7 linked regions of the Homo sapiens genome follow. The protein of the gene in region 1 purifies or fractionates together with the protein of each later gene. This does not show direct contact. Each region holds a gene or a part of one and is shown on either strand. Other genes may lie near its edges. The genes, in order: PRPS1, ELF2, PLS1, NMD3, SMIM26, ACSS2 and NMT2.

Evidence for each region.
Region 2: the proteins of PRPS1 (region 1) and ELF2 purify together in Homo sapiens (affinity purification with mass spectrometry; 3 studies listed by BioGRID and IntAct, with this or other methods). This does not show direct contact.
Region 3: the proteins of PRPS1 (region 1) and PLS1 purify together in Homo sapiens (affinity purification with mass spectrometry; 3 studies listed by BioGRID and IntAct, with this or other methods). This does not show direct contact.
Region 4: the proteins of PRPS1 (region 1) and NMD3 fractionate together in Homo sapiens (co-fractionation; one large-scale study listed by BioGRID). This does not show direct contact.
Region 5: the proteins of PRPS1 (region 1) and SMIM26 purify together in Homo sapiens (co-immunoprecipitation; one large-scale study listed by IntAct). This does not show direct contact.
Region 6: the proteins of PRPS1 (region 1) and ACSS2 fractionate together in Homo sapiens (co-fractionation; one large-scale study listed by BioGRID). This does not show direct contact.
Region 7: the proteins of PRPS1 (region 1) and NMT2 purify together in Homo sapiens (affinity purification with mass spectrometry; 4 studies listed by BioGRID and IntAct, with this or other methods). This does not show direct contact.

What each region holds. Positions count from the first base shown.
Region 1 is NC_000023.11:107,634,808-107,638,879, forward strand, and holds part of PRPS1 (ribose-phosphate pyrophosphokinase 1), read left to right. Parts: intron 1-4,072. UniProt on the Homo sapiens protein: Catalyzes the synthesis of phosphoribosylpyrophosphate (PRPP) that is essential for nucleotide synthesis.
Region 2 is NC_000004.12:139,124,786-139,128,857, forward strand, and holds part of ELF2 (ETS-related transcription factor Elf-2), read right to left. Parts: intron 545-4,072; coding exon 379-544; intron 1-378. UniProt on the Homo sapiens protein: Isoform 1 transcriptionally activates the LYN and BLK promoters and acts synergistically with RUNX1 to transactivate the BLK promoter. Isoform 2 may function in repression of RUNX1-mediated transactivation.
Region 3 is NC_000003.12:142,711,125-142,714,468, reverse strand, and holds the end of PLS1 (plastin-1), read right to left. Parts: intron 2,969-3,344; coding exon 2,844-2,968; intron 2,598-2,843; coding exon 2,462-2,597; 3' UTR 805-2,461; downstream 1-804. UniProt on the Homo sapiens protein: Actin-bundling protein. In the inner ear, it is required for stereocilia formation. Mediates liquid packing of actin filaments that is necessary for stereocilia to grow to their proper dimensions.
Region 4 is NC_000003.12:161,230,739-161,234,810, reverse strand, and holds part of NMD3 (60S ribosomal export protein NMD3), read right to left. Parts: intron 1,413-4,072; coding exon 1,332-1,412; intron 85-1,331; coding exon 1-84. UniProt on the Homo sapiens protein: Acts as an adapter for the XPO1/CRM1-mediated export of the 60S ribosomal subunit.
Region 5 is NC_000020.11:18,565,639-18,570,150, reverse strand, and holds SMIM26 (small integral membrane protein 26), read right to left. Parts: upstream 2,720-4,512; 5' UTR 2,673-2,719; coding exon 2,555-2,672; intron 916-2,554; coding exon 746-915; 3' UTR 591-745; downstream 1-590. UniProt on the Homo sapiens protein: May play a role in cell viability.
Region 6 is NC_000020.11:34,910,723-34,914,794, forward strand, and holds part of ACSS2 (acetyl-coenzyme A synthetase, cytoplasmic), read left to right. Parts: intron 1-2,373; coding exon 2,374-2,465; intron 2,466-2,670; coding exon 2,671-2,774; intron 2,775-3,030; coding exon 3,031-3,103; intron 3,104-3,373; coding exon 3,374-3,449; intron 3,450-3,600; coding exon 3,601-3,715; intron 3,716-4,072. UniProt on the Homo sapiens protein: Catalyzes the synthesis of acetyl-CoA from short-chain fatty acids. Acetate is the preferred substrate. Can also utilize propionate with a much lower affinity.
Region 7 is NC_000010.11:15,130,200-15,134,271, forward strand, and holds part of NMT2 (glycylpeptide N-tetradecanoyltransferase 2), read right to left. Parts: intron 3,165-4,072; coding exon 3,046-3,164; intron 2,946-3,045; coding exon 2,854-2,945; intron 2,735-2,853; coding exon 2,618-2,734; intron 114-2,617; coding exon 1-113.

The sequences.
Region 1 (4,072 bases):
TCTTACTTGATAATGATAAAGTTTTTTGTTTTTTTTTTTTTTGAGACAGAGTCTCGCTCTCTCGCTCTGTCTCCCAGGCTGGAGTGCAATGACTTGATCTCGGTTCACTGCAAGCTCTGCCTCCCAGGTTCACGCCATTCCCCTGCCTCAGCCTCCCGAGTAGCTGGGACTACAGGCGCCCGCCACCACACCTGGCTAATTTTTTTGTATTTTTTAGTAGAGACGGGGTTTCACCGTGTTAGCCAGGATGGTCTCGATCACCTGACCTCGTGATCCGCCCGCCTCGGCCTCCCAAAGTGCTGGGATTACAGGCGTGAGCCACCGTGCCCAGCGATAATGATAAAGTTTTAAAAACATAGCAGAATAGCTTGTCCCTTATACTGTCTGATATCAATTGTCAAACTACATTTGTTCATTTGTTCTCCAACTTTTAATCAAACATCCTGACTCTGGCAAGTGAATGTCTGGAGCACAGATGATACTCTGTGTTCTTGACTGAAACAAGAGCCATAGGCTTCTGATACATGATTGGAAATCAATATGCCTGCCTGACTTTCATTCTCCTCCAGGGAAATGCATATTTTGGTCAAGGAGCTGATATATGGAGGATGAATGTGAGCAGCATTAAAATTTTCTGATTTTTTTTTTTTTTGAGACAGTGTCTCACTCTGTCACCCAGGCTGGAGTGCAGTGGCATGATCATGGCTCCTAACTCCTGGGCTGAAGCAATCCTCCCACCTCAGTCTCCCCAGTAGCTGCAATCACAGGCACTTGCCACCATGCCTAATTTTTAAATTGTTTTGTAGAGAGGAGGTCTCTTTATGTTACCCAGGCTGGTCTCAAACTCTTGGGCTCAAGCGGTCCTCCTGCCTCTGCCTCCCAACCACAGACTTGTTTAACATAAAACCTAAAAGTGACTCTTTTAGCTTGAAATCTCTCGAAGGGCAGAGCTAGTAGTAAAGAAAGATCTGGGCCAGACATGGTGGCTCACACCTGTAATCCCAGCACTTTGGGAGGTCAAGGCGGGCAGATCACGAGGTCAAGAGATCGAGACCATCCTGGCCAACATGGTGAAACCCCATCTCTACTAAAAATACAAAAAATTAGCTGGGCGTGGTGGCGTGCGGCTGTAGTTCCAGCTACTCGGGAGGCTGAGGCAGGAGAATCACTTGAACCCGGGAGGTGGAGGTCGCAGTGAGCCAAGATCGTGCCACTGCACTCCAGCCTGGCGACAGAGCGAGACTGTCTCAAAAAAAAAAAAAAAAAAAAACTGAAAACGTCCCAAAAGTCCCTTGAAATGACCACTGCCTGTTTGTTTTGTTTTGTTTGGTTTGAGACGGAGTCCCGCTCTGTCACCCAGGCTGGAGTGCAGCGGCTTCATCTCCCCATACTGCAACCTCCGCCTCCCAGGTTCAAGCGATTCTCCTGCCTCAGCCCCCTGAGTAGCTGGGACTACAGATGCATGTCCCCACGCCTAATTTTTGTGTTTTTTGGTAGAGACGGGGTTTCGCCATGTTGCCAAGGTTGGTCTTGAAATGGGGAGCTCAGGCAGTCTGCCTGCCTTGGCCTCCCAAAGTGCTGGGATTACAGGCATGAGCCACTGCGTCCAGTCTTAAAAAAGGTTTATCCTAAACTAGTGCATTTTCTTTTTTGTTCTGGCTGCCAGGAATCTCAGCTTCCTTGATTTTAATTGGTTTCTAGTTTGATTTTTTTTCACTTGCTTTTATTTTTCTTGCTTTACAACATAAACTAACCCCATTTGTCTTTTCTTGCTTTTGAGATGAGGGTCTTCCTGTGTTGTCCAGGCTAGACTTGAACTCCTGGGCTCAAGCAGTCCTCCTGCTTCAGCCTCCTGAGTAGCTGGGATTACAGGTGTGTGCCACCACTCCCAGCTCCCTTTCATCTTGGGTTAGAAAGGAATAAATAAGTAATTATCTCCTATGTCAGCTTCTTCTGGCAATAGAATTGCCTCTGCCAGTTTTCATATAAGTCCCTTTTGGAGTTCTCCTTGAAGTTTTGTTTGGGGAGAGAAGGGTGGGTAAAAGTGATCTTGACAGAAATAGGACAGTAGGTAGTTCCTGAAGCCACACAGAAGATAGTGCTTAGAGTGAGATAGAAGTATGGATCTTTTATTTAATAACTCTATTGCCTTTTGATTTGAACTGAAGTTTTCTCTTGTTCAATAGGTATTGTCAGCCATTCTGATCTACTTGTCTATATACACACATACACCTCTCCTTCACCTAGAGGATTAGTTGGAATATAATGTTGTTTGAGGTATCACTAAGGTGATTTTTAAAAATTTTTAAATTATTTTCTTTTTTTTTTCTTAAACCTGGTGAACAGGAGAGGTGATTTTTTTTTCTTGGTAGAGACCCGAGTATGGGCACTGAAACTTTCGTGGTAAAATATAGCCCTACTTCATACTTAGAGTAAATTCCTATGGAGTTACTTAGTAATTGGACCAGAGTACAGTTAACACAGAATGAGGGCAAGGACCACATTTTATTCACCATTGTTTCCCTAGCATCTAGTACAGTGATGAGCATATGAACATTTAATATTTACTGGGTAAATTGCCAGTATGGTAGAGGTGGTACTGTCTTTTGTTAAAGTGTCATTATAGAACAGTAGTGATTCACTCCTTATGATATTTCTACTTCTTTTGCTATTTATGGACTCTGTAACAGTAATAGGTGATGCATCAAATTTTATGTACATCACATGTACCTATATGAAATGAGATACAGGCCACCTGCTAAAATTATGGTCCGGTTATTTGTAAGTACTTTAGACTAACATGTGCCAACCATTTCATGCATCTTTTTCGTGTCTGTCACATGGTAATATTAGAAAATATTACCATAGAAAATGGTAATATTTGTATAGTGCACTGGAGTAAACTGAGGCAGTGAACTGCTTCTGGTATAAGGCTCCTTCAGAGGATCTCCTGAAGCCTAGGTGATCAATATCCACATGTAGCTGTAACCATTCACAGCATACTAGTAGGGAAGCTGTTCTTAGACCTTATTGTCTATAGAAGTATAGTAAAGTCATCCCTCAGTATCCACAGGGGATTGGTCCCAAGACCAAATCTGCAGATATGAAATAGTGTAATATAAATATATATATATATATATATATTTTTTTGATATGGAGTCTTGCTCTGTCACCCAGGCTAGAGTGCAGAGGCACGATCTCTGCTCACTGTAATCTCTGCCTCCCGGTTCAAGCAATTTTTCTGCCTCAGCCTCCTGAGTAGCTGGGACTACAGGTACCTGCCACCACACTCAGCTAATTTTTTTTTTTTATTTTTATTTGAGACGGAGTCTCACTCTGTTGCCCAGGCTGGAGCGCAGTAGCGTGATCTTGGCTCACCGCAACCTGTGCCTCCCGGGTTCAAGTGATTCTCCTGCCTCAACCTCCCGAGTAGCTGGGACTACAGGCGTGTGCCACCATGCACGGCTGATTTTTATACTTTAGTAGAGATGGGTTTTCACTGTGTTGGCCAGGCTGGTCTTAAACTCCTGACCTCAGGTGATCCACCCATCTTGGCCTCCTAAAGTGCTGGGATTACAGGTGTGAGCCACCACACCCTGACTAATTTTTTTATTTTTAGTAGAAACGGGTTTCACCATGTTGACTAGGCTGGTCTTGAACTCCTGACCTCAGGTGATCCGCCCACCTCAGCCTCCCAAAGTGCTGGGATTATAGGCGTGAGCCATCACGCCCGGCCATATGAAATAATCTATGCACATGTTCCCTTATACTTTATTGTTATTTATTTATTTTTTGTAGAGATGGGGTCTCACTGTATTACCCAGGCTGGTTTTGAACTCCTGGGCTCAAATGATCCTCCTTCTACCCTGCCCCCTGCTCCCCAAAGTGCTGAGCCACCATGCCAGGCCCTCCCATATATTTTATTTTATTTTATTTTATTTTTGACACAGAGTCTCACTCTGTTGCCCAGGCTGGAGTGCAGTGGTGTGATCTTAGCTCACTGCAACCTCCGCCTCCTGAGTTCCAGCGATTCTCGTGCCTCAGCCTCCTGAGTAGGTGGGACTACAGGCGC
Region 2 (4,072 bases), on another chromosome or scaffold:
TAATCAATTAGACAATGATAGAATACCATTTTTTTTAATTTAAAAAGCTGTCCTCATAATACTAGCCTATTGACTTGTATAAATAACAGCTAGGATTTATACTCTCAGAAAAAAAATAATAAAATAACTTTATCATTATGTGAAGCTGTAATTTTGTGCATAGAGTCCATGATATGAGACTGTTACACCTCATAGAATTATACAATAGAAGTTTTATATCTACACAAATTCCCTTAAACATAGATGTTTCACTGGTTTCCAAGCTATACTAAATAGCATTAAAAAGGTTTTTCAGTATATTTTTCATCTGGCAATAGTATTGTTGAAGCTTACAAAATGAGAAAGTTATAAATAATGAACATTTTATGAGATGTCTACCTGTTTCCACATTCTCGGTCTCAACTTCTTGTTCTTCTGCCACATCTTGCATCATATAAGTCTCATCATCATAAACCAGAACCTGGGCTGCATAGCCCTGCTCTAATCTGGCACTTGGAACTGGCTCCACAATCACTGCTGGATATTCAGAAACCTTTTCACTTTCCTATAAGAGCAAATTTAAAGAACAATCAACCTTTGTATTTACAAATTCTGAATTCACTTATAAATCCTTGAACTAATACAGTCTCGAGCAGTCCACATAATGAGTTTCAAATATTATAAATATGAATGTAAAAGCCAAAACAAGAGATGAAAAGGGCTAACTTTAATAATCCTTTCAAGTCTCAAGAGGTAAGACATAGATTAAACATTTTAAATAATCTGTGCTTTAGGATTAAGTTGGCAGATTAAAAACATGCATATAATTTCACTTAATTATGAAAGCTGACTAAAACAACAGTAAAAGACTCTTTTATACCTAAACCCACAAGGACAAGAGGTGAGAGCAACAAACAAGAAGAGGTAAGAACAACAAAATCCTGGAAGACTGAAAGTGTCTGGATGAGTATGGAGTGGGTTAGCAGACCCAGCAAAGCCAAATCAGTCTGGCAGCAAAAAAAAAAAAAAAAAAAAAATCTGAGAAACAACACACTGTACAGTGTAGAGAATCTACAGAAAGCAACACCAATTACATGCACTTTTGATTCCTAGACCTTCTCTCTCCTTCATGATGCTAAGCAACCAGACCTCCTCCACCTCAGCAGAAGACAGGTTACTTTCCAGAGAGGAACAACAATAGCATCTTTGAGGCATAATAGGCACAGTTGTTAGCATCATACTCTACCCAAAATGGAGTGTCCAACTAGCTTTTTAGTCCATCACTTTTAGTCATGAACAAAAAGCCAAATATTCATATTCCACACACAGAGAAGATATTATAAAGTAAGAACAGATCACAATTCAGTAAAGAACATTTTAAAATACAAGTAAAAGAATTTTTGGAAATTAAAGATACAATAGCTGAAATGAATACAGGCTTGGAAGATAAAATTGAGGCAATCTCCAGGAACCAGAGGAAAAAAGATAAAGCAATAGAAAACAGGAGAGAAAAGATGGCAATATTAGATGACCAACCAGTCCAGGAGGTCCACTATCTGAATAACAGAGTTCCAAAAAAATAAATCATAAGGAAAAAACAAGAAATAGAAAGGAAAAAAAAAAAAGGTTTGGAAAGAAATCAACAAGAAAGAAGTAAATCAATAAAATTTTCTAAGACTGAAGGATATAAGCCACCCATTTGAAAGGACCCACCAAGTGTCTAGTACAAAAAATTAAGGAACACATACATTGAGGCATATCACTGTGAAATATCATAATATTGGGAACAGAAAAGATTCTACAAGCTTCTAGAAAGAAAACACAGGTTACTACAAAGAATCAGGACACAGACTTCAGTCTTCTCAACAGTCATACTAGAAGGAAGATGACAGTTGAGCAATTTCTTCAAAATTATGAAGAAAAATTACTTCCAATCTAGGATTCTTCACCCAGTCAAATCATCTTATAGAAGTAGAATAAAGGTATCTTCTCAGACATGAAAGATCTCAAACATTTACCTTTCATGTTTCCTTTCTCAAGAAGATACTGGAGAATGTATCCCATCAATAAGAGAGAGTGAATTTTTTAAAAAAGAGAACTATTGCAAATACAGGATAGAAGAGATCAACATAGGAGAGAAACAATGGGAATCTTCAGGAAGACTGTGAAGAGAGATTCCACGATGCTAGCTATGCACCAGATTTAAAGGGCAACCAGTCCAAAATATAGCAGTGTGACTCCTGAGATAGCATGATGAACTGTCATTACTACGATAACCATTGACCTTGTTCCTAAGGACAGAATGTCCAGATCAGTCTGTTCTAGATTTTTATTGACATTTGGCTTACCTTCATGTACCTACTCACTCCACCTGCCCTGCTGCCTGGATCAGCTAAGAACACATTTCACCCCCCAGATGTGTTCTGCTTTGATCTACTATGTGTTGGAGGAAGATTACCATGGGCTTAAAATAAAAGATACAGAACAGCGTTCTTCATGTGACCATATACCTCCTGAACAAATATGCAATACCCAGCCCATACCATACTGTAGCACTGCCAGATACCAGAGCAGGATGTGCCTTACATTTCTAAAAACTCATGGCATTGCTCACTGACTACTTGAAGACAAGCTCATGACACTCAGTGAACCTGACTATTCAGCTATCTTCTCCTGGAAGCCTTCATCTATCTATGATAATATTGCCCTTTCCTAACTCAATTAGCTTGGTAAACTATTTTTTCAAAATAAAATATTGTTTAGGACTATTTTCATAGGTGGCAAAACTATAAAGAAAAGTAAAGAAATTATAATACATAAGTCAAAACAATAGCACCTCTGGAAACAGCGCCCAGCCGGGTTTTAATATTTCAGTGATTCCTTCTCTTTGACCATAAAAAAGCTAAAATCATTTTGCATTAAAAAATTCAGGGTTCATGCCTGTAATCCCAGCACTTTTGGAGGCTGAGGTGGGCAGATCACCTGAGGTCAGGTGTTCGAGACCAACCTGGCCAATACAGTAAAACCCCATCCCTACTAAAAATACGAAAATTAGCCAGGCATGGTTGCATGCGCCTGTAATCCCAGCTACTTGGGAGGCTGAGGCATGAGAATTGCTTGAACCCGGGAGGCAAAGGTTGCAGTGAGACAGGATCACACCACTGCATTCCAGCCTGGCTGACAGAATGAGACTCGGTCTCAAAAAAAAAAAAAAAAAAATTCAGACCAGGTTCAGCGGCTCACACCTGTAATCCCAAAACTTTGGGAGGCCAAGGCAGGAGGACTGCTTGAGCCCAGGAGTTCAAGACCAGCCTGGGCAACATAGGGAGACCCTATCTCTAGAAAAAATAAAAAATAAATATCAGCCGGGCGTTGTGGCTCTTGCCTATAGTCCTAGCTACTTGGGAGGCTGAGGCAAGAGGATTGCTTGAACCCAGTAGGTGAAGGCTGCAGTGAGCCATAATCATGCCTTTGCACTCCAGCCTGGCAACTGAGAACAAGTCTCAAAAATTAAAAAAAAAAAGAAAAATATTAAACTCTCATTTCTTTTAACTGAACTTTTAACTGATCTTTAACTGAAGTTAAAAGGCAACAAGTCCAATTAAAGAAGTTCTTTAACTGAACTTTAACTGATCGATCGAGACGTATACTTGTATACATTTCTCAAAAAAATAGTCTAACTCCTTGACTTATCTATATATTCCTTGTAATCTATGTTCCACCACCTCACTGAAGCTATTCTCTAAAAATATTTTTTTGCTTTTTTTTTTTTTTTGAGACAGGGTCTAGCTCTGTCGCCCAGGTTGGAGTGCAGTGGCACAATCATGGCTCACCGCAACCTCTGCCTCCCAGGCTCAAACCATCCTCCCACCTCAGCCTCCTGAGTAGCTGGGACTACAGGCATGTGCCACCACTCCCAGCTAATTTGTGTATTTTTGGTAGAGACAGGGTTTCACCATGTTGCCCAGGCTGGTCTTGAACTCCTGGACTCGAGCAATCCACTTGCCTCAGCCTCCCAAAGTGCTGGCATTACAAGCATGGGCCACCATACCCAGCCTCAAAATGTTAATAACGACCAAATTCTATTTCAGTT
Region 3 (3,344 bases), on another chromosome or scaffold:
TGGCAGAGTTATGATGAACAGTAGCATCCAAGATTCAGAAGCAGCATATTACTTCAAGCAGCTTACCCAAACCACATATACAAAAGAGCAGTCATGACTCCAGTCAGAGAAGAAAAAAAAAAATCCAGATTTAGATCTAGTCCTACAATACCCTAGACTCCATCTCCATCTCCAGACTCTGCCTCTCCCTCAGTACTCTCAGGTCATGTTCACCTGTTTGTCTTCTAGGATGCCTACAGGACTGCCTGCTTCAGGTTCTTTACATTTGTTCTCTCTGCTGAACACTTATAGCACAAATATCCTTAGAGAGACCTTCCCTGACCACCCAAATACAAATAATCTCCACTCCATTTCCCAAGTCAGTCTCTATCACATTACCTTATGTTATTTCTTCTACTGCATTATCACTGTCTAAAATTCCTATTTACGAATTGTCTCTCTACTAGGATATCATACATGGATGTGATACATGAGGTCAGGAGACTTCATCTGTATTTTTTTCAGATGAATCCCCAGTGTCTAGCATAGTATCTGGATCATAATAAATGATAAATTTGTGAATGGATTGATTCACCTGAATTATTTCAGCACAAACTAAATTGTAGTAATCACACAGTTGGTTTTTAATAATTCTTCATATTTAAGAACAAAAGAACTACCCTCATCTTCAAAGAAATCAGACACAATTTTTTTTTTGTTTTACTAACTCATTTAGGAATTCTTTTCTTTTCTGGAAAATAAGCTTATGCTAGACTAATTTTCAAGGCTGAATATTTTTCTTCAAATGAAATAAATATAAACACATTTCTATATACACAGCATTTTTATTAAATATACTCTGTGAGAAAAAGAACACCCTAAAGTGCCAGATTTCATGTAAATCCAATAACTTAGTAAATACAATGGTGAAAAAAAATCAGAGGGAAACATAATTTAAATAATCTTATAAAAGAGCAAGAACATATCTTAATCTTAAGAAAACAATCATCAAAATATAAAAGGGAAAGAAATCTCTTTTGTAGAAGAATATATTTCAAATTCCACCTGTTGATCATTTCATTTAAAAAATTCTATTCTAAACACATGGGCAGTCTCTCTTACCAATATATATATTTAAATCAATGGTAGAAAGGGAATTTAGACTACTCATTCACACTGAGATAAAGTGACATTTTTGTTGCACAACAGTATTGCTCACTGGCACTAACAGTGGAAGATGGAGAAAGTAGATTTCTGGATTCAATTGTTAGCAGCAGAAATGGACTAATGCTAAAAATTTAGAAAAAAATAGTCCAAGCTGTAGCGATTTCCAAGTAATACAAACATTAACCAAACATTGCCAATTTGTAACGGGCTGTGAAAAACATATGAAAATACTCTACATTGAATACTAGCTTTATGTTACTTTCTATTAAAGATATTCAGTGGGCATATTCTAAATTATATAGGGCTTCTATAGAGACCTAAACTAGCAAGTATAATATGAAGCTAACAGGACAGTGTCAGCATATCTTGGGATGTTCTAGCCAATGTTTGGCTACAAGTATTTGGAAGGGGTCAAATAACTATATGCACATTCAAAATGAATACTTATAAAAAGAAATCTTAATGTATCAGATATCCACAGACTGAAAAGTGTTACACATGTTGTGGGGGGAAAATACTGATGGTTGGCTGAATGACCAATTAAACATACCACTTATGAAAAGCTGGGTGATTCAGGTGCAAAAAAATATATATGCACACATATCTCTCTAATAACATCCTACCAACATATATATGTTGCATGACATAGTTAAAGCTGTGTTACCAAACTAGGATGTGTAAAGTATCAATGTAGTTAAAATTAAATTTTAAGTAAAAAGCTGCTGCTACTTAAACAAGAGAGTGAACTTTGGGGTTTATTCAAGAATTAGTTCTCATATATAAAAAAGTTTGATATTAATAAACAATTCTGGTCACCATAAGGTTTTAGACAGTATAGAAACTTACAGAAAAGTGTTTTTGGACCACTTTAAATAGTTGGAGGAAGCAAATAAAAGGATTAAACTGGATTATGAGTATGAATGCATTTATGATCAAAATTAACACACCAAAAAAATCAAACCACATTTCACAGCAGAACCTGCAAAAACGTTTGTATTCATCTTTTTTGAACCATAAAAAAGAATGATTTAGTCTTGTCTAATACGACTTTTAAGCAACAAAAATAATTTAATCATGAAGTATCAGCTTGATTATGAATATATTCTATTATCTGTATCAGTTGGTAAATTAACTGTGTTACCCAAAAAGGCTGACCAGCTCTAACTAGTATGAACAGGATATTGAATTCATTAATGAATATATAACTATTTTGAGCATACAAATAATCTCTGGTTTTACACCCACTACATTTCAGAATCCTGTAAACTGTGAGGCATACAATATGTTTAATGTGGCAGAAAATCATATGAAATGATTATTTTATTCTGTTCAGTCCTTTTCCCATTAAGCATGCAAACACCGTCATAACCATCTTTGGTTTCACTTCTACGAGGTCATCAGGTAATGCATATATCCGGGCACCGATCTTTCGAGCAACTGAAATGGCGTATCTTGAAGAGACAAGAAAAATATCTTGGTGTTATCCACTGTGTTTTCACTTAACATATTTTAACAAAAGAGTGAAATATTTTGACAAGATTAGTTTTACGAAAAGGTTAAGTTTGTGAGTCTTAAATCTAAGACTCACATATAAGTTATATTTAAAAATATGAATTTTAAGGGCATAGTAACTTTTCCTATAAGGATTTTAGAGAATTAAAGGGCCATGTATTGTAATATAAACCATAAAGGCTTACTTAGCATTGTTCAGCTTGTCCTCATCAGATAAGTTTTCTCTCCTGATCATTTCTTGACGAACTGCATTTGGTGCAATGGCATCTATTAAATCTAGGACAGGTAAACTTGTGCTTATAGATTTATCCTAGAAAATAAAGCATAGATGAACATTCATAAACATCTGACCTTTAATTTTCATTATTTTCAGACTCTTCTGATCATATAACTGAAGGCAATCTACAAATTCTTTGTACTTAACCTAACGTTCAGCTTTTCTGCAACCAGCACACATAAATAAACCCTTTAAAATATACTTTTCCTTGAATCTTTATATATAATATAGAGTTGTCACCATATCTGAATAAGGTTTGTGGACATGATAGCTCCTAAGTATGCTAACTATAGTGTCCATTCTGTAAAAAATACAAAACTTTTGAAAGGGAATAGATGAATTTTTAATTAACAATTTTATAAATTCTACTCACATATTTCTTAGACCATGAATCCAAAAGCCTTCCCTT
Region 4 (4,072 bases), on another chromosome or scaffold:
TACTCTATGGCAATCTCCACACATTTGGGACTGAACAACATAATCCACCACAAACACTTGTTGAAGGATAGCACCATTCATCACCTGATAAAACAATTACACTCCTTCATTCTTTTGGTTTTGTTTAATAACAAATATTTTCTTTAAAGAAGAACCTTTAATATTTAATTTAAAACTTTTTCCATTAATGCTTTGAGGACATCAATCAAATGTCCTCAAATTTAAAGTCATAAAAACAAGTTATACTATTTCAAGAACGGTATACAGATTTAATTCCTAAGATTTATTAGATTAGCATTTCAAATTTTCCTTTAGCTGAAGTGGTTGTGAGAATATTCTGTGTATATTTTACATATATATATATATATATAATTTTTTTTGAGACAGGGTCTCACTCTGCCTGTTGCCCAGCCTGGAGTACAGTGGCACGATCTTGGTTCACTGCAACTTCTGCCTCCTGGGCTCAAGTGATTCTCCACCTCAGCCTCCCAAGTAGCACACACCACCACGTCCAGCTAACTTTTGTATTTTTAGTAGAGATGGGGTCTCGAACTCCAGGGCTCAAGTGATCTGCCTACCTTGGCCTCCCAAAGTGCTGGGATCACAGGTGTGAGCCACCATGCCCAGCCTATACATGTTTACATAGAAAAATCATCCTTAGAAGAAAAAAATAAGGAAAACTTCTCAAAAAAAAAATTCCTTAATTTAATGATTCCCAAACATAACTGATCAGAAATCACATGGGAAGCTTTTTAAATACAGATTGAACATTCCAAATCCAAAAACCCAGAATCTGAAATTTCAGCTTCAAAATCTGAAACTTCTTGAGTTTCTAAATGACACTCAAAGAAAATGTTCACTGGAACATTTTGTATTTGAATTAGGGATGTTCAACCAGTTAAGTATAATGCAAAATTCCAAAATCCAAAAAATCCAAAATCTGAAACACTTCTTGTCCCAAGCATTTCAGATAAGGGATACTCAACCTACTTATAGATTCCCGGCCTCACATACAGAGAATTTTTGCTTCAGTTATGATGAGTCATTACAATGATCAGCCAAGTTTGAGGATCAGTACCTTAGACCATGTTTTTACTTCAATCCTTTCCTAATAAAAATAACTCTGGAAAAGTAAGTCTGCTAATCAGAAGCAATGACTACTCTTACTAGTGATCTAATTATTTGTACAGATGCTCAAAAGAAAACAAACAGCTAAAATTGAGTGTACTCTTTTTCTTTTAAGCTGTTCAAGCCATAAAATAACTTATCACTGGGTCTTCATTTTCACTACCTGCACTTTAACCATGCTGAGAAAATTATGTACTGCTTACCTCTTTCTGAATAGTCAGTTTAACTTTAAGTCTCTTAGAATGAGGCTCAGTCCAAACAAAGCCTGCATCTACAAGCCGTACCTTCAATAAAACACAAACAAAAAGAAACGTAAGTTCTCACCTAGGAGGAAAAAAAACACGAAAGAACAAATCATCAATAAGCAGATTTCATAAGATGCTTAAGGAATCTGTGATCAGCATACTACACACCATCATCACAAAAAAAGATTAATCATTGGTTACGTAACAACAGCAGCAAATCAAAGGACAACCCAATGACTATATTAATGCAACTGATATAATTTAAGCAAAAATTAAAGTATTTGCATAGGAAAAAAATTCTTTTCCCTTAAAAAAAAAAAAAAAGTACATTGTCCTTTAAAAGGAAATTATATTTTTTGGAGGAAAGCAAAGACCTTGTGACCTCATTATTTATTAGTAACCTCATGAACAAAAGTTTCCACTTGGATTATTCTCTCTATATTCTGTGACTTTTTTTAAGAAGTGACATTGATTAGAGAAGTTGCATGCACTGAATACTAAATCCACAACTATAACTCACTACTAAATCTGCAGCATCTGCATAGGCCAAAACAGTTTGCTATATGTGAAGATCTGAATATAACTCAAGAATGGCCAGAATGGGTGTTTGGGGAGAAGGGGTGGGTGGGAGAACAAGAATGGAGGCTGCTGTAATAACCTGGGCCAGATTGTAGATGATCTGAACTGAGAGGCACTGGAAATAACAAAAGCAGATGCAAGGGCTAGTTAGGAGATAAAAATCTGTAAGATTTATCTGCACAGTCCAAGTGATGCAGAAAAAAAATCTGTAAGATTTAATGGTAACTGGATATGGAAAAGAGGAAGAGAACAGACTCCAGAATGATGCTCAAGTATTTGCTTAGACAACTAGGCAGTACACTTTTTGTGACTACCTATACCGAAATAAACAATGGATATAATGAGAAAAAGATGTTACATTTGATTTCAGACATTTCAGTTTAAGACAGTATCTGTGAGATACCCAAGAGGACTTTTCAGTGAACAGTAAGATACAATTGGTCTGGAGATCTATAAAAAAATTTGGGCTGCAGTTAACAGATTTGAGAGGTATCAGCAGCAGATTATACTTTTATCAAGCACTGTCTGGTAAAAAGTAGACTGGCCACTTTTAGTGTAGATGCAAAGATTCAACACACCAGAGTAAAACCCTCCTCATATAGCTGGCCTCCCTAAAACAAAGCCTAGTAGTTAACAAGTGATGCCAGGTACACAGGGTGATAGGCAGATTCCTATTCCTTCAATCTCCATCAGCAGTGGTTAAAAAAAAAAAAAAAAAAAAAGCCCCAAAGGCACTGAATAAGACTGATCTTCCCCTCAAGCTCCAACCTCCACCTGCAGGAATGGAGAGTCTCCTTGACATCCTGCTCGGCATTCCCCAACACAACCACTGCACTATGTGTCCTCAGACAACCATGACTAATCAACTTTATTAGTCCCTTTCTTTCTTTACCATAGTCCCAGACACCTCAGTCACCCCTATTTCCCATACTCCAATTTCCATATGGTTATGCATATTCCCTATTCTGTCCCCATCTAACACTCCTCCCCGAATCCTAAAACCCTTCTACTGTGCCCTCCGGAGCTCAACATTCATTAACAATGAAATCTCCTAAATCCTCAACTTTGCTGAACATTCCCTTCACCTTCTAGATCTCCTGATTTCTCTCTCCCCTGCAGCTATATAAAGTGATAACTGATTCTTCCTATCACTGGACCAGGCACCAGACAGCTATCGTCCTTGCTCTTCATTGCTAATTACAGACCATTCTCCTTGTCTCCTCCTCAAATATACCCAGCTCTAAGTCTAAAGTCATTAGACTCTACCACCCGCAACTCTCTTTTTTATAGTAATCTATTCATCTTTGTATCACTTGTTTTCATTTCTCAAAAGATTTTAGCTTCTGGCTCACCATCACACTTTCCAACAATATTAATACCTAGCGATTTCAATATCCACACAGGTGATCCCCACAATACCCTGACCTCTCACTCCATTCTTTGAGTTCTTCTTCTCCCAAAATATTATCCACCTTCCTATCTCAGTCACTCATATGCCTCTATTACCAGTAACTGCAAACCCTCCAAACTATCAATTCCAAACATCCTACTCCCTGACTACCACCTCCCATCTTTCCAGCTTATTTCCTCTAGTTCCTGGGCACCAAATATCTTTCAAGCTAATATAATGGACAATCCATTCATCCTACCAACTTTATTCCTCATTCCTCCTCACTAGCTTCAAAATCAATAATCAAAATTATTCTCATGTACACACTCAATTTCCTTGTTCCCTCTCTTATTTCACCTTAGCCACTAGGCTAAATTATAAATTTGGTTAAATCCAGTGCTCTGCCTGCTCTATGCCTTGACTATGTGGCTGACAGAACTACAGAAATAGATGCACACCACAGTGACTAGTCTAAACTTGTAACAGTAACCCTCAGCACTGCCCAGCACCCATCCAACACTGTCCTGGTGCATTTCCTCTAGTTCTAGAGGACTATTTCATATCTTCCGCTCTCTCCTCAAACATCTATCTAACAGCTCTTCCCACATAGCTACTGCCCACGCTTCTGTTTTCTCCAGTACAAAAGAAGGAACCAGAGGAGAATTCCCAGAAGCTCCCACTCAACACCTTCCCTGCTGTTACCACAGATGAATTATCCATACTCCCATCA
Region 5 (4,512 bases), on another chromosome or scaffold:
TGTTTAATTCAGAAGTTACAATCAAATTTATATCATACTTACCCAGTACGCAGTAGTACCCAAAGGGCTACTGTGAATCCCAAAGTGAATATGGAGATTTGCTGAAACTAACCTTAAAGCGACCACTAAAGCTGTGCCTAATAGCAACATGAAAGAAATATAAATCTACATTAACTAGTTTCAGGAAATCAAGCTTATGGAAGCTCTATGTGAAATTTCACAGCAATCTTTCACTCATGCAAATACAGAGGAACACCTCTTGAAAATGCAGATAGTAGGCCGGGGACCGTGGCTCACACCTGTAATCCCAGCACTTTGGGAGGCTGAGGCAGGCGGATCACAAGGTCAGGAGATGGAGACCATCCTGGCTAACACGGTGAAACCCTGTCTCCACTGAAAACACAAAAAATTAGCCAGACATGGTGGCAGGCGCCTTTAGTCCCAGCTACTCGGGAGGCTGAGGCAGGAGAATGGCATGAACCTGGGAGGCGGAGCTTGCAGTGAGCCGAGATCGAGCCACTGCACTCCAGCCTGGGTGACACAGCAAGACTCCGTCTCAAAAAAAAAAAAAAAAAAGAAAACGCAGATAGTTTCCTTCAAGAAAATATTTATTGCATATTATTAGTGATTATGTTTTACAGCAAATTTAAATACATACACTTTTCACAAACCCAAAATGGGAATCAGGGCAACTATCAAATTTAAATGTTGAACCAAGTCCTGGTTTTCAGAATTCAGCAGCCAGTCATGGTTCTGTACCAGGGCCACCAGTCCATGATTTCCAATAGTTGAGGATCTTTTCTGTATTTGGAACAAAATCTTCTTTATATGTGACAACTGTTTCCACATAAAATCCTTTTGGGCGTTCAGAGAGTTCACTGGGTACTTCACTTGCTGAGCCATCCTTTTGGTCTACTTTATCACCATTAAGAGAAAAAAAAAAAAAGAACACCTGAATTATTAACTTAGAAAGCAGTCATTAAAGTCTTAGAAATTAACTAAGGTAAGAATTACATCCACTCTCTCCAACCCCAATAATGAAGGAAGGAATGAAAAGGAAGGGAAAAGAAAAGCTGGGTGCGGTGGCTCACGCCTGTAATCCCAATCTCACTTTGTGGGGGCCGAGGCAGGTGGACCACCTGAGGTCAGGTGTTTGAGACCAGCCTCGCCAACGTAGTGAAACCCCATCTCTACTAAAAATACAAAAATTAGCTGGGCGTGGTGGCATGGGCCTATAACCCCAGCTACTGGGGAGGATGAGGCAGGAGGACTGCTTGAGTTGGGAGATGGAGGTTACAGTGAGCCAAGATAGCGCCAGTGCACTCCAGCCTGGGCGACAGAGCTAGACTCTGTCTCAAAAAAAAAATAAAACAATTCGCCGGGCAGCAGTGGCCTGCGCCTGCAATCCCAGCTACTCGGGAGGCTGAGGCAGGAGAATCACTTGAGCCCGGAGACGCAGGTTGTGGTGAGCCGAGATCATGCCACTGCACTCAAGCCTGGGCGACAGGGTGAGACCTTGTCAAAAAGAAAAAAAAAAAGAACGAAAGAAAGAAAACATAAATATGGACATTAAAATATTTTTACTTTATATATAAATGTAAAGTATTTTTACCATATATTACATATAAAGTAAATATAAAATATTATATATAAAAATTTCTTTTTCTTTTGGTAGAGATGGGGGTCTCCCCATGTTGCCCAGGCTGGTCCCGAACCCCTGGGCTCAAGCAATCTCCCACCTCGGCCTCCCAAAGTTATGGGATTACAGGCGTGAGCCACTGCACCCGGCCAAAATGTTTTTAAATGCTTAATGCTGGACACATGTACTTTCAGGCCACTGACAGCTTCATCACCAAATGTAATCTTCAGCATAGTTTTTACACAACAACTTTACTGAGATATAATTAACATATACGATTAACCCACTTAAAATATACAATTTAATGTTTTTAGTATATTCAGATTTGTGCAACCAGCACCACAATCAATTTAAAAATACTTTCATCCACAAAAGGAATCCATACCTTTGGCAGTCATTCCCCAACTCCCCAACCCCTCAGCCCCTAGCAACCACACTAATCAACTTAATGTCTCTACAGATTTCCAGCATATTTTTCAAAGCTGAGAGACTTTTCTCCCTTTGCGCTTAGTAACTGGAAGATTTTAATACGCCTTGGCTGCTAAAAGTACTGAAATTGCTCGCCATATACGATGAGGGACAGTAGTACTGAAGCATCACTCTTTAAAAATCACCGGCCAGAGTCTCTGAAAGTCCACCTTGCACTTTACACAGATTCCTCCAATTCTGAATATGGGGACGGCCCTATCCAGTAAATGATTCAGATTTAGGAAACAATATTTACAAGGTATTAATAATTCCTGGAGTCTAGTTCTTTGCAGATTCCATTATAACAAACGGCTGTTAGCACCCGTTTCAATTAGTTTTGCAGAATAAACCTGGGATTTAAAGGACAGGGAAGTTGTTTCCATGACCCCCGGGGAACTCTCATCGAAGGCCGTGTGTTCCGGGGCAGGCCCCGCCGAAGAGCCCTACCTGACGACTTCGCCATTGTCCGGCTATAGTAAAGCAGTGAGCCCAACACAGACCAGGTGCCGATCCCGTAGACCACCGACATCCGCCGGTACCAGGCCGTGAACTCATTTCGATACATGGGTACGCCAGCGAGTGCCTCGATTCTCGCAGGCCCACGGCAGAGGCGGGACTTCCGGTGAGGGCGTCGCTGCGGTCCCTGCCGCCGGAACCATTAAGGAGCCGCCAGTTTTCAGCGTCCGCTTCCGGCTCTGCCCCGATGCACCTTGGGGCCTCTGGCCCGGAAAGTCGCTCAGGTGTCCGGACTTTCGGGTGTAGAACTGTGGGCGTGCGATACTTTTTACCACGTGACGAGGACTAAATGACAACTTAGAGGAGAAGCTTCTCACTTGCAAAATTGTAATGCCTTCGTGGGCTCCAGACGGTATCCGAAAAGGTTACTTCCAATTCCTCTTCCAGTTTTCAGATTTGCAGGGATACCGCTTGTCTCTCCCCGCAACTCTTCTTTTCCTCCATTTTTCTTTCCGGAACTCTGGGTGAACTTTAAATACTTCCAGGCCAAAGCTAATCCCTCCACTAGGCTCTGGGTACTATTTTTTCCAGCCTCAGTGGCCTTTCCCCTCATTGACACCCTAAGTCCTCCCCCATCTTCATTATTGACGTTTATCCTTCATACAAACGTGCCCATGTCTCAAAAACAAAAAATCTCCTTCGACTCCGACCACCTCCAGCTTTTGTCTTATGCATACATTTTTTAAAGCAAGATGCCCTCAATAGACTGAACAACTTAAGAGCAAGTGTGATGTGCTTGGCACAAGGTAGGCCCGGTAAATTAACGTTAAGTACTTTTCAGCCACACTCAAACTTGGTTTCGAAAGCATTTGCCACCACTGACCCCACCTGCACCTTTCATGGCTTCAGAAACATCATTTTCCCTGGTATCCTTCAGGGTTCTTTTCACCTTGCCCACCCTTTAAAAACTGATGTTCTGCCCTACAGAAATAGATAAAAAACTTAACTCTGAATGGATCGCTGACTTAAATGTAAAAGCTAAAACTATTTAATATAAGCCTAGAAAAAAACCAGGAGAATATGTTTGCCATCTTGGAATAAGCACAGAATTCTTAGAATAAAAAAGGCATCCCAAGCGGGGTGGCTCATGCCTGTAACCCCAGCACTTTGGGAGGTAGAGCAGGGAGGATTGCTTGAACCCAAGAGTTCCAGACCAGCAAGGCCAACATAGTGAGACCCCATCTCATTTTATATATATATGCATAAAGCGAAAATGGATAAATAGGGCTTTTAAAAAAAAATTAAAATTTTTGCTCTTTGAAGGTCACAGTTGAGAAAATGAAAAGCCAAGCCACAGAATAAAATATTCATAATAACATATATCTAACAAAAGGACTTGGATCCAGAATATATGAGGACGCTTTACAACTCAGTTATAAAAATACAGCCCAACTAAAAACCAGGCAATAAATTTGAATAGAACGAAAGAAGATATACAAATGACCAATAAGCACAGTAGCATCATTAGTCATCACAGAAATGGACATTAAAAGAATACAATAAGAGACCATTACACACCTACTAGAATGGCTAAAATCAGATTGAGAATGCCAAGAGCTGTAAGGATTTGGAATAATTGGAACTGTTATTGATGGGAACATAAAATGTTACAATCTCTTTGCAAAACTTAGTTTTTAAAAAGTTGAACATATGCCTACCATATAACCCAGGCATTCCGTTTCTAGTTATCCATGAGAAATGAAAACCTGTGTCTGCACACAGCCATGTACATGAATGTTCATAGTTTTATTCTTAATAGGAAAAAATAGAAACCACCCCCAATACCCATCGAGTAAATGGCTAAACAAAACGTGGGATACCACTTACAAATAAAAAGGAACTACTGGCTGGGTACGGGTGGCTCACACCTGTAATCCCAGCACTTTGGG
Region 6 (4,072 bases), on another chromosome or scaffold:
GAGAACACTTCTCATTATGTATCTTTTTATGTAGTCCCACTTGTATGTATTACTTATTCAAAAAAATCATAAAATTGGAAAAAAACCACTAAGGGAAACATTTATTTATTTATTTTTTGAGACAGGGACTCACTCTGTTGTCCAGGCTGGAGTTCAGTGACATGATTACAGCTCACTGCAGGCTTGACCTCCAGGGTACAAGCGATCTTCCTGCCTCAACCTCCTGAGTAGCTGAGACTACAGGTGTGCACCACCATGCTCAGCTAATTGAAAACGATTTTTTTTTTTTTAGCAATGAGGTTTTGCTGTGTTGCTCAGATTGGTCTTGAACTCCTGGTCTCAGGTGATCCTCCTGCCTTGGCCTCCCAAAGTGTTGGGATTACAGGCATGAGCCAAGAGATCTTCCCATCTCATCTTTCTGAGTGGCTGGGACTATAGGTGCATGACACCACACTCAGCTAAAATTTTTTTTTTTTTTTTTTGAGACAGAGTTTCATTCTTGTTGCCCAGGCTGGAGTACAGTGGCACAATCTTGGCCCACTGCAACTTCCGCCTCCCAGATTCAAGTGATTCTCCTGCCTCAGCCTCCCGAGTAGCTGGCATTACAAGCATGCACTACCACACCCAGCTGATTTTTGTATTTTTAGTAGAGACGGGGTTTCTCCATGTTGGTCAGGCTGGTCTTGAGCTCCTGACCTCACGTGATCCACCTGCCTCGGCCTCCCAAAGTGCTGGGATTACAGGTATGAGCCACCGTGCCCAGCCGGATCCAGCTCAATGTTTTTAGAGATGCGGTCTTGCTATGTTGCCAGGCTGGTCTTGAACTCTTGGCCTCAATAGATGGGCCCACTTTGGCCTCCTAAAGTGTTAGAATTACAGGTGTGAGCCACCGTGCCTGACCCAAGATAGTATATTTTTTAAAAGTATTTCTCCCTAGTCACTCATTTTTATATCATTCTGCTCTATTTATAATGCTTATCATAATCTGAAATTATCCTGGTTATATTTGTTATTTGTTTATTACCCACACTATCATTGGAATATAAGCTCCATGATATCAGGTATCTTACTTATGTTGTTCATTGGTGCCTTATTTCTTCTTTTTTTTGTTTGTTTGAGACGGAGTCTTACTCTGTCGCCCAGGCTGGAGTGCAGTGGCGTGATCTTGGCTCACCACAACCTCCACCTCCCTTCAAGCTATTCTCCTGCCTCAGCCTCCCAAGTAGCTGGGATTACAGGCGTGTGCCACCACACCCAGCTAATTTTTGTATTTTTAGTAGAGGCATGGTTTCACCACATTGGCCAGGCTGGTCTCAAACTCCTGACTTCAGGTCATCTACCTGCCTCAGTCTCCTAGTGTGTTGGGATTACAGGAAAGAGCCACCACGCCCCGCCCATTGGTGCCTTATTTCTATACATGTAGATAGCACATAGTAGTTGTTGAATAAGCAAATGAATGCATGAAGGAATGACTGAAGTAAACCAGGCTAAAGCCTAGGAAGGAGTGGGAGGCAAGGCTGAGGAGGTAGACAGAAATCACCTGATAAAGGATGGCGATTCTCAAACTTTATTTATTTATTCAAGATGGAAACTCACTCTGTCATCCAGACTGGAGTGCAGTAGTGTGATCTCAGCTCACTGCAACCTCTGCCTCCTGGGTTCAAGGGATTCTCGTGCCTCAGCCTCCCCAGTAGCTGGGATTACAGGCACACACCACCACACCCAGCTAATTTTTGTATTTTTAGTAGAGACGCGGTTTCACCATGTTGGCCAGGCTGGTCTCAAACTCCTGACCTTTGATCTGTCCACCTTGGCCTTCCAAAGTGCTGGGATTACAGGCGTGAGCCACCGCGCCTGGCCAATTCTCAAGAATCCCCTACTAATTCCTTGTACCATCTTGTAATAAAGAAGCAGATCCTTGGACCCTGTGATTCTAATTCAGTATGTTTGAGCTGGGGCCCAGGAATCTACAAATCCTCTAGATGATTTAGGCACAAGTGATCTGGAGACCCTACTCTGAATAATGCAGTCTTGATGCCTCATCAGAAGGAATCACATCTGTGATTTCACTTCTCCTTAATACATTACTAGGATGGAAGAGAAGGGGCCGTCACTCCATTTCATCAAGGATCAGAGATGGACAGTGCATTTTCTAATGACATACAACATGTGTATAAAATATCTTGAATGGCCAAAGTATCTGACCCGTCAGCTCAAGATTGGTGATGGCAAGATTGATGGTGGGCAGATAGCTCATCCTCATAGAACAGTTCCAGGCCTTAGTGTCACTGAATGGATTTTATGACTCTGCCTGTTTCTTGTTTGGGGAAGAAGTTATACCCCTAATCACTGGTTCTTTCTGGTATGTCTCAGGGAGGGCAATGAGCCAGGGGAGACCACTCAGATCACATACCATCAGCTTCTGGTCCAAGTGTGTCAGTTCAGCAATGTTCTCCGAAAACAGGGTGAGTGTGGGGGTGTGGGAAAGGACTGGGGGTCTGGCCTTGGGGTATCTGAGTATCTGAGACTTATGGGGAGAGGGCAAGGGATGGAAAGAATTTGGTAACAGAGGAAGAGAACAGGTCAGCTGGGAGGGAGGCCAGCTGGATGGGAGGGAGCAAGTAGCAGCAAGAAGGGTTCATGGTTCATATTCTGTGCTTTTACCTGCAGGCATTCAGAAGGGGGACCGAGTGGCCATCTACATGCCTATGATCCCAGAGCTTGTGGTGGCCATGCTGGCATGTGCCCGCATTGGGGCTTTGCACTCCATTGTGGTAGGAGTTTGGGCTGGTGAAAAGGGGCAGGCGGGGGGGTGGGGCTCTGGAGAAGTAGGTTGGGCCTAGATGATGGAGGGTCTTAAATAACAAACTAAGGAGCTTAGAAGGTTTGTGTCATAGGTCCATATTAGTTATTCAGTTTCTTCTAGGACCCTGGCTTAGAGATCCTGAAAGTTCCATGAGCAACCCCTTTCTTCATTCACTCAATCCCTGGGGCTTTCTTCTCTCCCTCAGACTTTCTTCCCTTCCCTAGTTTGCAGGCTTCTCTTCAGAGTCTCTATGTGAACGGATCTTGGATTCCAGCTGCAGTCTTCTCATCACTACAGGTGACTAATTCTCTCACCTCTTCTCCAGAACCCCCCATACCTCAAGCCTTGGTCTCCAATCAGCTCATTGGTATTTGGGGCTACTCAGCATAGAGGGTAGAGACTGCCTGCCTTTTCTCTCCTGGTCCCACCTCAGCTGACCCTCTGTCAGCTCGAATCAGCTGGAAGAGCCAGAGTTAAGAGGCCTACTCAGGAAGGGCCCTATGGACATTGTGCCCACTAGGCAGCATGGGGCTTACTAAGGCCTGGAATGTCTGTTGCTCCCCAAAGATGCCTTCTACAGGGGGGAAAAGCTTGTGAACCTGAAGGAGCTGGCTGACGAGGCCCTGCAGAAGTGTCAGGAGAAGTAAGTGTGTTTGGCTACTGTCTGAGTTGACTGAGCCTTTCCCCAGTGCCAGGTTCCCTTTGTCCCCTCTACCCTAAATGGACATGGGTGGGTCTTGCCAAGTTCCCTTTGAGCCAACAAGGCTACCACTTTAGGCTTTTCTCTTCTCCAGGGGTTTCCCAGTAAGATGCTGCATTGTGGTCAAGCACCTGGGGCGGGCAGAGCTCGGCATGGGTGACTCCACCAGCCAGTCCCCCCCAATTAAGAGGTCATGCCCAGATGTGCAGGTGAGTCTGGCACTGCTATGCCTTTCTCCAGGCTCAAATTCCTTCACTTTTCCTGCCTAGAAAATTCTTGATGTCCTTCTTTGCCTGCTCATCAGTATACTGAGGATCCAGGAGCAATTCTAGGAATGCCTCCTCTAGCAGGGCTAGGTGGGAACTGGAAGACTTTGACCTTGACTGTGGGTAGAGAGGCCCTTGTACCTTGAGAACATAGCACAAGCGATTGTAAGGGAGACTCCTATGCTGGTTGGGGTATCCTTGTGGGCACAGGGGATCCTCAGGGCCTAGGCTTGTGTTAGAAATGTCTAACTTGAGTGACAATATATAGTCATCTCCATTACTAGGCTGTGATGTGGGGTG
Region 7 (4,072 bases), on another chromosome or scaffold:
TCCCTTCCAGGTTCACTCTTCTAGTGATCTCTCGGATTAGCACTGGGGCTACCCGTTTCGATCTCAACTTCTTATGAACACAAAGAAAGTTGATTTCTACCATCTTCTTCACACTAAGAAATAAAGATGGTGAAGATTAAGAGTCAAAACGAGATTCAAAATGAAGAGTCAACACATTTTAAAAAATAAGATGATACCCAGGAAATATCCAAGAATAAGAATGCAGGCTGGGAACACTGGCTGTCGCCTGTAATCTCAGCACTTTGGGAGGCCAAGGCAGGTGGATTGCTTGAGACCAGGAGTTCCAGACCAGCCTGGGCAACACTGAGACTCTCATCTCTACAAAAAACAAACACCAGCCAGTCATGTTGCCGCATGCATGTGGTCCCAGCTACTTGGGAGGCTGAGGTGGAAGGATCACTTGAGCCTGAGAGGCAGAGGGTGCAGTGAGCCATGATTGCATCACTGCCCTCCAGCCTGGACAACAGAGCAAGGCCCTGTCTCAAAAAAAAAAAAAAAAAAAAAAAAGAAAAGAAAGAAAAAGAAAAAAAAGAACATAAAGGCCATTCTATTTTCTTCTTTCTTTCTTTTTTTTTTTTTTTTTTTTTGAGACAGATTGTCGCACTGTCACCCAGGCTGGAGTGCAATGGCGCAATCTTGGCTCACTGTAACCTCTTACTCCTGGGTTCAAACGATTCTCCTGCGTCAGCCTCCTAAGTAGCTGGAATTACAGGTGCACGCCACCATGCCCAGCTCATTTTTGTATTTTTAGTAAAGACAGGGTTTCACCATGTTGGCTACGCTGGTCTCGCATTCCTGACCTCATGATCTACCTGCCTCGATCTCCCAAAGTGCTGGGATTATAGGCGTGAACCACCCACCGCACCTGGCCTGAAAGCCATTCTTTAACACAATATTTAACAAAAATATTCTATCACTTAGACATTTCACAAATTCAGACGGAAACACTATTCCCCATATCTCCCTGCCAAAATGATTGTAAAACGCACGGAGGCTCCAACCCTCTTGTTCTAAATACATTTTGGGACTTTGGTCCATTATACGTTTTCAGTTTAGAAAATGGATCAGCTATGGCTCTTTACGTTTCTTTCCTTTTTTTTTTTTTTCCTTTTTTGAGATGAGGTCTCGCTATGTTGACCAGGCTGGTCTCGACCTCCTGGCCTCAAGCAATCCTCCCATCTCAGCCTCCCAGTGCTAGGATTACAAGCATGAATCACTACGACCTGCCCGTCTTTAAGTTTCTAGATCTGTTTTTCCTAAATTATGGTAATAACTGAGTCATCCTGGTGCAGAATCTGATAAGATGTTGCTTTGGAGTGTGATACAAACCCCTGGGACCCCTGAGAGGGGCTTTGAGCAGACCAGAGCTGGTGCGCTCTGAACTACAGTAAACCTCCTAGATCTTCAAATCCTGTTCCTGGTTCTGTTTCCAGGTACACACTTCATTTGGCACAAAATATTCCTTGAGATCAAATGCTTTTCACAGTAAATAAGCTAACCTAATACACTGACAAGTAAAGAGACCAATTATATATGACATCTTTGACTTTCATAGCTGGATCTTTGACTTTCCGGGCTGGAGATCCAAACTAAAAGTGCAATGTATCCTATGGAGAGAAAGCTTTATCTCTCCTAAAAAATTTTTAAGTAATTTTTTTTTTTTGAGATGAAGTCTTGCTCTGTCACCCATGCTGGAGTGCAGTGGTATAATCTTGGCTCACTGCAATCTCTTCCTCCTGGGTTCAAGTGATTCTCGTGCCTCAGCCTCCCAAATAGCTAGGATTACAGGCACGTGCCACTATGCTGGCTAATTTTTGTATTTTTAGTAGAGATGGGGTTTCGCCATGTTGGCCAGGCTGGTCTCGAACTCCTGACCTCAAGTGATCTGCCAGCCTCGGCCCCGACCAAAGTCCTGGAATTACAGGTGTGAGCCACTGTGCCTGGCCAAGGCTTCGTTTTTTCTGATACATATATGTGTGAGCATGTATGAGATTGAGAGGCAGAGAGAGAAAAAGAGAAAAAGAAACCATTGTCCTTTATTTTTATTCACAGTCCGTTTTTTTTTCTTTACTACTTAATAAATTTATATTTTAAAACAGTTTTAGGTTCACAGCAAAACCAATCAGAGAGTTTCCATAAAGCCTCTGCCTCCACACATACACAACCTCCCTGATCACCGGACAGCTTGCATTCAGTCATTTTTATTTTTATTTTTATTTTTTTTGAGATGGAGTTTCGCTCATGTTGCCCAGGATGGAGTGCAGTGGCGCAATCTCGGCTCACTGCAACCTCCGCCTCCTGGGTTCAAGCAATTCTCCTGCCTCAGCCTCCTGAGTAGGTGGGATTACAGGTGCCTACCACCACGCCCAACTAATTTTGTATTTTTAGTAGAGATGGGGTTTCACCCATGTTGACCAGGCTGGTCTTAAACTCCTGAGCTCAGGTGATCTATCTGCCTCAGCCTCCCAAAGTGCTGGGATTAGAGGTGTGAGCCACTGCGCTTGGCCTGCATTCAGTAACTTTTAAAGGCCTAATCTAATTGTAATTCTTAGAAAATAAACATATAAAAACCGCATGGACGAGCTTAAACATGTACCTGTCATAAATCCGAATGTTTGCTGGGATGGCACTTATGAACCCGACCAGTTTTTTATTTGAAGACACTCTGACCCCACAGTGCCACTGCAGGAGCCAGCCTGGTGGACGCAGAGCCCTGAGGTCACGGTAGACAAGAAAACAGGCACCAGTTATTGTCCAAGAACACAGGAACAGACGCAGGAGTCCCCAAGTCAGCAGCGCCTATCCACGACATCTGTGATCGATGAGACTTACCACAACAGGAACTCGGGTGAATAGTCAAATCGGAACATATTGTCATCATCTTCTACGTAATTCTCATTTAACAACGTGTATAACTCCTTGAGCTATAAGATAAAACAAGTGTCCTATCCATGGTGCTCAGAATCAACTTAGAAGCAATGTGTGAATGCAGGAGTTGAATTTAAGAGGTTTTTACTCACTCACCACTTCGGCATCACTCAAGTCTAAAGTGTCCCACATAAAACCCTGTGGCAAAGAATACGGTTCTTGGCGTACGTTGTCTTTATCTGGTTCAATTGCACCATGAGATGTTATGACTTCATCTGAACAGGGAGAGAAAGAGAAAAAAGAAAGGCAAAAAGCGAGAATATTAAATGACAAAGTATTCTAACCATCCAAAGTGGTCAGTGACATAAGCAAAATCTGACTTAGGGCCCTCGGGTTTCAGATAATCTTTAAAAAGATGCTGTTATATCAAGCGCCTCTGGACTGAAACAGGAAAGCTAGGCAGTGGTGTGAAATCATTGCTGTTTCACCAATTATTTTTCTTTTCTTTTTTCTTTTGAGACGGGGTCTCACTCTGTCGCCAAGGCTGGAGTGCAGTGGTGCAATCATGGCTCACTGAAGCCTTCAACTCCTGGGCTCAAGCGATCCTCTCTCCTCAGCCTCCCAGGTAGCTGGGACTAGAGTTGTACAACACAGTGCCCGGCTAATTGTAAATTTTTTTTGTAGAGACGGAGTCTCATTATGTTGCCCAAGCTGATCTCAAACTCCTGGGTTCAAGTGATCCTCCCACCTCAGCCTCCCAAAGTGCTGGGATTGTAGGTGTGAGCCACCACAGCTGGCCTATTTTGCCAATTAAATGAAAGGAGAAATCCTTTGTCATCCAGTGACAAAGATGACATTACAAAACAACAGTGATTCCGAGTCTCAAGGCCTACAATGCAGCCTTATCTTACACACTGTCATAAGCAATGTAGGTTTCATTCAACAGCCTTGGGAGGTGTGTTCTTTTTACTGCATTTCCACAAACTGGGAGAGGAAAGGGCTGCGGTGACCTCTGCCCCTCCCAGCAAAACCTAAAAATAATTTCAAGGCTGGTTACTTCTCCCCATCTAAACTGCTAGCAGCGTAGTTCAGGCCATCACAATTTCTAGTGATTTCCACCAAGAAGAGTTTTCCAAGTCCTTCTCTGCAGAGCTTCCCAACATGGTAGGACTAAAACCCAGGC